Homo sapiens: one gene and its partner. The protein of the gene in region 1 purifies or fractionates together with the protein of each later gene. This does not show direct contact. Each region holds a gene or a part of one and is shown in the gene's direction. Other genes may lie near its edges.

The links. The genes of interacting proteins can lie anywhere in the genome.
Region 2: the proteins of THUMPD2 (region 1) and TRMT1 fractionate together in Homo sapiens (co-fractionation; one large-scale study listed by BioGRID). This does not show direct contact.

What each region holds. Positions count from the first base shown.
Region 1 is NC_000002.12:39,737,366-39,742,111, reverse strand, and holds part of THUMPD2 (U6 snRNA (guanine-N(2))-methyltransferase THUMPD2), read left to right. Parts: intron 1-711; exon of another isoform or gene 712-1,215; intron 1,216-4,746. UniProt on the Homo sapiens protein: Catalytic subunit of the THUMPD2-TRM112 methyltransferase complex, that specifically mediates the S-adenosyl-L-methionine-dependent N(2)-methylation of guanosine nucleotides, most probably at position 72 (m2G72), in the U6snRNA of the major spliceosome.
Region 2 is NC_000019.10:13,109,067-13,114,463, reverse strand, and holds part of TRMT1 (tRNA (guanine(26)-N(2))-dimethyltransferase), read left to right. Parts: intron 1-1,452; coding exon 1,453-1,568; intron 1,569-1,646; coding exon 1,647-1,759; intron 1,760-4,157; coding exon 4,158-4,306; intron 4,307-4,462; coding exon 4,463-4,549; intron 4,550-4,625; coding exon 4,626-4,695; intron 4,696-4,779; coding exon 4,780-4,914; intron 4,915-4,997; coding exon 4,998-5,083; intron 5,084-5,397. UniProt on the Homo sapiens protein: Dimethylates a single guanine residue at position 26 of most nuclear- and mitochondrial-encoded tRNAs using S-adenosyl-L-methionine as donor of the methyl groups. tRNA guanine(26)-dimethylation is required for redox homeostasis and ensure proper cellular proliferation and oxidative stress survival.

The sequences.
Region 1 (4,746 bases):
CTCTTGGCTCTATTACTTAATAGTTCTTCAGTCACAGGCATATTGCTTAACCACTTGCCTATCTTTAATACCCACTTAATGGCATTGTTCTGAGTCAGTGGATTTAAAGCTCTTACAACAGTGCTGGCCACCTAGAACTTACTCAGTATCTGTTATCACTTACCTGATTTTTTAGTGTATACCACTGAAAATCCTTTTGGGAAGTGTGTGAGGATATATTTAAATATATCGGAGTACACATAATTTTTATCCCAATGGTTTACTGATAGTTTAAGGCCCTAGATAGAAAATGGAAGGGATAGGAAATTGTGTTCATGAAAATACAACAAACCTGTTCATAACAGGCAGTGGAAATAGTACTGTATGTACTACAGAGCTGGACTCTTCGAGAAAGGACATGCAATCAGAATTAAAGATTGTCAGATAAATGATTACTCTGGTGGCATGAGCTATGCATTCTCAGCTCAATTATTTCCTCCTTTAATGTATTAAAGGATTATGGGTACAGAGCATTGTCAGGAATTCAGAGAAGTACATTTGAGTTTTCTCCTCAAATGTAACTGTGCAAATACATGAGCAAAATTAAAAATTCACCTTGCACCGCTTGAAGGAAGAAGGCATTGTGTGCCAAAGAGGCTTGAGATGGTTTCAGGAAGAAGCCAGATTTCAGTGAAATTTGGAAGTGAAGACAGAATTGAAAAGGAGACCACATCATGTTTATATGTACAGATGTTTATTAAGTATTTCTTGAGTGAGCAGTACAGCAGGAGGTGTGTTCATGGAACAATGAGTATACCAGACTGCCTGGAGCAAAGGATTTATAGTAGGTGGTTAAGACTTAATGTGTTCCATGGACAAATAATTTAAGATTATTTGTACCATCTACTCCTAGTTTTTCAGGTTCACATACGAAAGGGAAATCTCTTATGCTGTTTGATACAGACTTCCCCCAACTTACTGACTGCAGAGTTTTTTCTTAAGAAATAGTAATATTGTATTCTTATTATTATCATCACTGATACACTAGTGTTCAAAGGAATACAATTTGGTAAACATTGCTTTATAATTCTGAATAGCTTTCATAGTAAGAAATTATGTGTTTCTGGGCACAGTAGCTCATACCTGTAGTCTCAGCAACTCAAGATGCTGGGGTGGAAGGATCACTTGAGGCCAGGAATTCAAGACTAGCCCGGACAACATAGCAAGAACTCATCTCTAAATAAATAAAAAATTTAAAAATTAGCCAGGTGTGGTGGCATGCACCTTCAGTCCCACTACTTGGAAGGCTAAAGTAGGAGGATCGCTTGAGCCCAGGAGTTGGAGGCTGCAGTGGGCTGCGATCAAGCTACCTGGGTGACAGAATGAGACCCCATCTCTAAAAAGAAAAGAAAAGAAATTATGTGTATATGAACTAGGTGACACCAGTAGCTTGAGGTATGATCAAGCTGCCCAGGTGACGGAGTGACCCCATCTCTAAAAAAATAAAAAAAAAGAAAAGAAAAGAAATTATGTGCGTATGATCATGGAAAGATGCCTAGAAGGACATTTATGGAAAATGTTCATCTCAGAGTAGCAGGATTTCAGGTGATTTTCACTTTCTCTCCATTATTTGAACAAAATTACAATAAATGGTGACTGTCCTGTTAGGCATCTTGTCATGTACATATGCACAAAAGGATACATGTTTACTACTCTACATAAATAGGATTGTCCTTAATGTACTGTAGCATTGCTTTTTTTCTACTCAACAATGTCATGAATCTCCTTTCTGATCAGTTGTTACAATATACATTATAATTTTCAGTGGTTGCCACATTATATGTATGTACCATTATGCAACCAGTGCTTATGGATGAATATTTAGATAATCCCCAATTTTTTATTTTAAAAAAGAACTATTCTTTGAACATCCTTGCATGGTTTTTCAAACTTAACTATATGACCAAGCACCACAGTCACAGTATCACAGTTTCTTCATCTGCAAAATGACAGTGTTATAGAGCATACTTAGAAAGATAATTCTGAAGTTTAAATGATACATAATACAGAGCATATCCAACTGCCTGGCACATATTAAGTACTCAATAAATATTAGCTATATCACCATTATTATCACTGTTATTCTACTACTACTACTATTACATCTTCTTAGGATAATTTCCTAGAAGTGAGATTGCTGGGTCAAAGGTTATGTACATTTCATATTTTTGATACATGATTGCTAAACTGTTGCCCCAAAAAGTTACTTCAGTTTCTGTCTTCAAGAGTACTCATTTTCCCATCCACTTCTTCCTTGCTCAGTAGAAGAGGCTTCCCTCTTCCTGCAAGGGTTTATCCTCTCAGTTCCTTCCTCCTCAAGGATCACACTCTGCCCACTTCTCATTTTTATCTTCTGCCTACTCATCTGCCGGTTCTTTCCAGGAGATTCATTTATCCCTTCCCCAGACACGTTTGGAAGTCTTTGCATCTCCCATGCACTTGCATGTACTTGGCCCCGGGGATTACAGCAGTGAATACGACAGGCAAGGTCTCTGACCATTCATTGTGAGAAGACAGATGGTTAATCAGTAAACAAACTGGATAATGTCAGATCATGACTGGTACTGTGATGGACATAAAACAAAATGTTTTGCTTTAGAGTGAGAGAAAAGTAGTGGCTACCCTAGCTAGGTAGTCAGGAAAGGCCTCTCTGGGAAAGTGATATTTGACTGTGGGGCGTGAGTGATAAGAATGAGTGATAAACGCAGGGTGAACAGCAATTCCAAATGTCCTAAGGTGAGAAGCAGCTTGGTGAGTTTGAGCAGCTGAAGGAAGGTCAGTAAGCAAAGAAAGCAGGCAGTGACATCAAAAAGGTAGGTAAGGGTCAGATTGTGTAGGAGCCTTGGATGCCAGAGTAAGGGGGTTAGAATGTATTTGAAGTACAGTGCAAGCAACTGAGGAGTTAGCAAAGAATTTACATTTGTCTTCTGTGTGGAAACGGAAGACAGAGTGGGAGGGGCGACAAGAATGGAAACAAGACCTGTCTACCAGATTGTTGCTGTGGTCCAGGCAAACTATGAATGAAGTAGACAAATATGTGATACAATTTAGAGACAGAATTGTCTAGCTTTGCTGATGGATTAGACTAGGGAAAGCTACCTAAGCTTCTTAGATTTTTGCTGGGCATGAGGCAGATTCCCCTTAACTCTTGGTCCTTTAGCTGCCACTGTTTCTTTTCCTGTACAGCTGAACTTCTTGAAATAATGGCCTACACTTGACACCTCTGCTTCCTCAGTTTCCAGCCCCACTCTACCCTGGCAGACGAGCATCTGCTCCTGCCTTCAGCTAGGATTGCTGTCCCTGGGTTCACTGATTTCTCATAATCCTGATCACCTGTTAGTCCTATAGCATTTGTTATTTTACATATATATATAATTTATATATGTATATATGTGTATATATACATATAATTTATATGTATATAAATTATGTATTTATATGTAAATATATAATATATATTATATATATATTTTTACATATGTATGTGTGTAAAAAATAATTTTATTTTAAAGACAGGGTCTCTCTCTGTTGCCCAGACTAGAGTGCAGTGGTGCAATCTCAGCTCACTGCAACCTCTGCCCCCTGGGCTCAAGCAGTCCTCCCATCCCAGCCTCCCAAGTACCTGGGATTACAGGCACACGCCACCACACCTGGCTGATTTTTGTATTTTTTTGGTAGAGACATGTTTTGCCATGTTGCCCAGGCTGGTCTCAAACTCCTGTGCTCAAGCGATCCTCCCACCTGAGCCTCCCAAAATGTTGGGATTACAGGTGTGAGCCACCATGCCGGCCCTATAGCATTTGACACTGTTGAAACTGTTTCTTTCTTGAAACTGTACTTCTTTGGCTTCCTTGACATAACTGTTGTCCAGATTTTCTCTGAGGATGTCTACTTCATGGGTCTTCTCCTCCGTCACTTTTTAAATGTGAAATCTCTGCTCCCTGTCCCATTTTCTCTTCTCAACCTGTACTGCCACCCCAGGTGATCCCATCCACCATTATGGCTTTAGCTACCATTTACTGTATCTTTACCTCAAGGCCTGGTCTTTTCCATTACTCCAGGCTGTGTATCCAGCTCTCTGGTGGAATCCGCACTTATGTGTTCCTTAGGTACATCAGCACGTTCCAAGCTGAACTCCTTACTCCCCTCCTCCCTCCACTTCCCACCCGCTGTGACTCACCCACCCACTGAGCTGCTTTCAGAGCTGCCTCCTCTCCACTTCCTCCCGTCTTTGCTGCTTTTTCTGCTTCCAGCACCCTCCCTTGCTGCAGCCGCTTGCCGTCGCTTTGCCTGGCTCATTCCCACTTGTCTTTTAACTCATAGCACAGGTATCTTCCTCTGGGAAATTCTCTCCTCTGTCCCATGCTCGGGTTTGGGACCCACCTCATGTTCCCAAGCCCCTCATGCTTGCCTTGATTATAGCATTTTCACACCCTTTACTCGCCTCTCTCTCCCAAAGAGATGTTCAGTGATCTCTTGGCAACTTACAGGGCTATGTCACGGGACACAGGCAAGTGTTTTCATGACTTTTTCCACATAAGTGCTACATAGACTTTGATAATTGAGTAAATGCATTCTCCTCAAGAAGCTGACATTTCAAGATCTGCCCTTCTTTTTCTGATTTTTCCTTCGCCATTTCTTTGTTCGTGTCCTAACTCTTTCCTGTTAACTTTCTTCTGCTGTCAGGCTACTGCTTTTAATACATGC
Region 2 (5,397 bases), on another chromosome or scaffold:
CGATTTCCTGACCTCGTGATCTGCCCGCCTCGGCCTCCCAAAGTGGTGGGATTATAGGCATGAGCCACTGCACCTGGCTATGCCAGGCTAATTTTTATATTTTTAGTAGAGACAGGGTTTTGCCATGTTGGCCAGGCTAGTCTCAAACTCCTGACCTCAAGTGATCTGCCCACCTCGGCCTTCCAAAGTGCTGGGATTACAGACGTGAGCCACTGCGCCCGGCCTAGCCTAGTTTATCAATGGCCCACAACCCAAGAATGTTTTTTACATTTTTAAAGGTTAAAAAAGAAGACTATGCAGTAGGGACCACATATGACTCACAAAGCCTAAAATACCTTCTGACCTTTTACAGAGAAAAAAGTTTTTACTTTTCTGACCTTACTAGAATCCAAATAGTAATCACAGACAATGAAAAGTAATTAGCTGGGCATGGTGACTCATGCCTGTAATCAAGCATTTTGAGAGGCCAAGGCAGGAGGATCGCTTGAGGCCAGGATTTCAAGACCAGCCTAGGCAACACAGTGAAACCCGTCTCTACAAAAATTTTAAAATGAGGTCAGACGCAGTGGCTCACCCCTGTAATCCCAGCACTTTGGAAGGCCGAGGTGGGCGGATCACTTGAGGTCAGGAGCTCGAGACCAGCCTGGCCAACATGGTAAAACCTCGTCTCTACTAAAAATATAAAAATTAGCCAGGCATGGTGGCACGTGCCTGTAATCCCAGCTACTTGGGAAGCTGAGGCAGGAGAATCGCTTGAACCCAGGAGGTGGAAGTTGCAGTGCGCCGAGAACCCACCACTGCACTCCAGCCTGGGTGACACAGCGAGACTCTGTCTCCAAAGAAAGGAAAAAAAAAATGTGTTAATACATCTATAAACTGCTTGAAATGGTGTCAGGCAGATACGTCTTATATCAGTATTGTTGTTGTTTTAGATGTGTGGACTGAGTTCCACATGGTGCTTTTCCTAAGTAGGAAAATTGTGCAGTTTAATAAATGACCAAGGCCAGTGCAGTGGCTCACACTTGTAATCTCAGCACTTTGGGAGGCCGAGGTGGATGGATCACTTGAGGTCAGGAGTTTGAGACCAGCCTGGCCAACATGTTGAAACCCCATCTCTACTAAAAATACAAAAATTAGCTGGGCGTGGTGGCACATGTCTGTAGTCCCAGCTACTCTACTCGGGAGGCTGAGGCGCGAGAATTGCTTGAACTGGGGAAGCGGAGGTTGCAGGGAGCCGAGATCACAACACTGCACTCCAGCTGGCTGACAGAGCAAGACTCCGACTCAAAAATAAAATAAATAAATAAATAAATGACTGAGCCAGGACTTGAACTTGGGAATCTGGCCCCGGAGTTCAGACCCAAACCACTGTGCTGTACGAGTTAATATGTGTAGGGGACAGAGAAGGTACCTGGCGTGGGAGGCTGAGGACCTGGCCCTCTTTGCACCCAGGATGCTGATGTACCAGCACCAGAGGGTGTCGGAGAGGTTTGACGTCATCGATCTGGACCCCTATGGCAGCCCAGCCACCTTCCTGGATGCAGCTGTGCAGGCTGTGAGTGAAGGAGGTGAGGTGGGGATGGCACTGGGGTGGGAGCAGGGCTTGGGGTGTTGGAGGGTTCTCACTGCCCAGCCCCTCTCTGCAGGGTTGCTGTGTGTGACCTGCACAGACATGGCGGTGTTGGCGGGGAACAGCGGGGAGACGTGCTACAGCAAGTACGGGGCCATGGCCCTCAAGAGCCGGGCCTGCCACGAGATGGTGAGGGGCCCTCTGCCAGCCAGCCAGGGAGACCGGGGGACAGGTGGTTGTCTGAGTCCCTTCCCAATACACTTTCCCCCTCCTCAGACCTGCTCAGCTTCCTCCAGGCTGATGGCCAGATGCATCCCAGGCTGTTAACGACAGGCGTGTCTTCAACCCACATAGTTCCTAAGAGCATGGCTGATAATCATGGTCATTTGGGGACAGTGGCTTTGGCCAGGACAGGAGTGCATGGCCACATTATTTTAGTTTTCTGTATTAAAACAACTTTTCAAAAAAAAATTTTTTTTTTAAAGGTCGTTTTTCCAGGACTGGGTTTAAATCCTAGCTTTGCTGGTAGCTCTGGGCAAGTGACTTCACCTTTCTGGTCCTCGGGTTTTTTTGCATCTGTAAAATGGGCACAATGATGGTCTGAAGGCCGGGCGCAGTGGCTCACACCTGTAATCCCAGCACTTTGGGAGGCCTAGGCAGGTGGATCACCTGAGGTCAGGACTTTGAGACCAGCTGGCCAACATGGTAAAACCCCATCTCTACTAAAAATACAAAAATTAGCCAGGCATGGTGGCAGATACCTGTAATCCCGGCTACTCAGGAGGCTGAGGCAGGAGAATCACTTGAACCCAGGAGGCGAGGTTGCAGTGAGCCAAGATCACTCCGCTGCACGCCAGCCTGGGAGGGAGACCCCATCTCAAAAAGAAAAAAAATAGGCCGGGCGTGGTAGCTCACGCCTGTAATCCCAGCACTTTGGGAAGTCGAGGTGGGCGGATCATGAGGTCAGGAGATTGAGACCATCCTGGCTAACATGGTGAAATCTGATCTCCACTAAACATACAAAAACTTAGCCAGGCATGGTAGCGGGCACCTGTAGTCCCAGCTGTTCGGGAGGCGGAGGCAGGAGAATGGCGTGAACCCAGGAGGTGGAGCTTGCAGTGAGCTGAGACTGTGCCACTGCACTCCAGCCTGGGCGACAGAGCAAGACTCTGTCTCAAAAAAAAGAAAAAAAAATAGGCCGGGCGCGGTGGCTCACGCCTGTAATCCCAGCACTCTGGGAGGCCGAGGTGGGCGGTGTTCAAGAGGTCAGGTGTTCAAGAGCACCCTGGCCAACATGGTGAAACCCCGTCTCTACTAAAAATACAAAAAAAAAAAAAAAAAAATTAGCTGGGCGTGGTGGTGGGTGCTTGTAATCCCAGCTATTCGGGAGGCTGAGGCAGGAGAATCACTTGAACCCGGGAGGTGGAGGTTGCGGTGAGCCGAGATGGCACCATTGCACTCCAGCCTGGGCAACAAGAGCAAAACTCTGTCTCAAAAAAAAAAAAAAAAAATGGTCTGACCCTATTGAGTGTCTGATCAGGATTCAAGAAGGCTGAGTGGCGAAGTGCAGCGGCTCATGCCTGTAATCCTAGCACTTTCGGAGGCCAAGGTGGGAGGATCACTTGAGGTCAGGAACCTGGGCAACATAGCGAGGACCCCATCTCTACAAAAAAACCCTAAAAATTACCTAGGTGTGGTGGTGGATGCCTGTGGTCCCAGCTACTCTGGAGGCTGAGGCAGGAGGATCACTTGAGCCTAGGAGTTCAAAGTTATTGTGAGCTTTGATAGTGCCACTGCACTCCAGCGTGGTCCACAGAGGGCTCTTGCCCTTGTTCCTAAAGGGTCCTGTCATGAAGTCAGCCCGGGAAATGCTGTCTCCTTTCCCATATCAGAGTCTCACACTAGCAGGAAAGCCCTAGCCGTTTTGCTTTTTTTTCTTTTTTGAGATGGAGTTTCACTCTTGTTGCCCAGGCTGGAGTGCAGTGGTGAGATCTCAGCTAACTGCAACCTTCGCCTCCCAGGTTCAAGTGATTCTCCTGCCTCGGCCTCCCTAGTAGCTGGGATTACAGGCGCCCGCCACCACACCCAGCTAATTTTTTGTATTTTTAGTAGAGACGGGGATTTCATCATGTTAGCCAGGCTGGTCTCAAACTCCTGACCAGCCTCCCAAAGTGCTGGGATTACAGGCATGAGCCACCACGCCCGGCCCAGGCCCCAGCAGTTCTACAGCACCTAGTATCCCCACTTCCTGCCCACAGAGCCCTTGGGGGCTGGAACGTGGGTCCTCAGTACATGCCACATGGCACACCGATAATGCTGGTCAGAATAGGTTGGATCTATGCTTTCCTCACTCGTTTAGTGCCCCCAGCAGTGCCACAGACAGGGACTGTTGTGATTTTGCAGATGAAGAAACTGAGGCACAGAGAGGGGATACTCACTTGTTGAGGGTCCCACAGCCAGGACTTTCAGGGGTGGGCTTGGATCCCAGGGAGCTGGCCCTGAGCCTGTACTTGTGAGTACCACATAGGGCTCCTGGTGGGGTGGGTGGATAGTGGAGGGGAGGCTGACACCCACCCCCCACCCCCAGGCCCTGAGAATCGTCCTGCACAGCCTGGACCTCCGCGCCAACTGCTACCAGCGCTTCGTGGTGCCGCTGCTCAGCATCAGCGCTGACTTCTACGTGCGTGTTTTTGTCCGTGTCTTCACCGGCCAGGCCAAGGTCAAGGCCTCAGCCAGGTCAGCCCGGGGGCAGAGAGCGGTGGTGGATTGAGAGAGGAGACAGGACCTTGCCCTGGGGGATCTGGGGCTTCTTAAGGGACAGAGCCAGTCTAAGGGAGGAGTTGGGGTGTCGTGGTCACGCTGGGAACTCGTGGCCACTGGTACCCCCCACAGCAAGCAGGCGCTGGTGTTCCAGTGTGTGGGCTGCGGGGCCTTCCACCTTCAGCGTCTCGGCAAAGCGTCAGGAGTCCCCAGCGGCCGGTGAGCAGGGAGGAAGGAGAAGAAGGGGAGTCCCAGGGTTTTCCTCCCTCCCCACCAACCACCCCTCTCTGTTTAGGGCCAAGTTCTCTGCAGCCTGTGGTCCCCCTGTGACCCCCGAGTGTGAACACTGTGGGCAACGACACCAGGTAGGGCTAGGCCAGGGGAGGCAAAGGAGCAAGAGGGTCTTGAAGGTCATAGTCCCTGCTCACCTGTCCCCGGTGCGCCCCCAGCTTGGTGGCCCCATGTGGGCAGAGCCCATCCATGACCTGGATTTTGTGGGCCGTGTCCTGGAGGCTGTGAGCGCTAACCCCGGCCGCTTCCACACCTCGGAGCGGATCCGAGGGGTCCTGAGCGTCATCACTGAGGTGAGAGCCGGGCTGTGACGGGGAAGGGGGCTCCACCTGTGCCCGTCCATCTCCACTCATGCCCATCCTGTCCCCCATCGCAGGAGCTCCCGGACGTGCCTCTGTACTACACCCTGGACCAGCTGAGCAGCACCATCCACTGCAACACACCAAGCCTCCTGCAGTTGCGGTAAGAGCCCCTGGGGTCGGGAGGAGCCTGTCCCAGACCACAGGGTGGCCTGGGGCAAGTCCAGGGATTCTCATGCATAGAACTTGCGAGGGGGTGGGGAGAACCCGGTGCACTGTCTCATTCCTGTAATCCCAGTACCTTGGGAGGCTGAGGCAGGAAGATCACTTGAGGCCAACCTGGGCAACGTAGTAAGACCCTATCTCTAACAAATAAATAAATAAATATATATGTACACACACATACATATACACACACATACATACGTATGTATACACACACACACACACACACACACCCATTAGCCTGGCATGGTG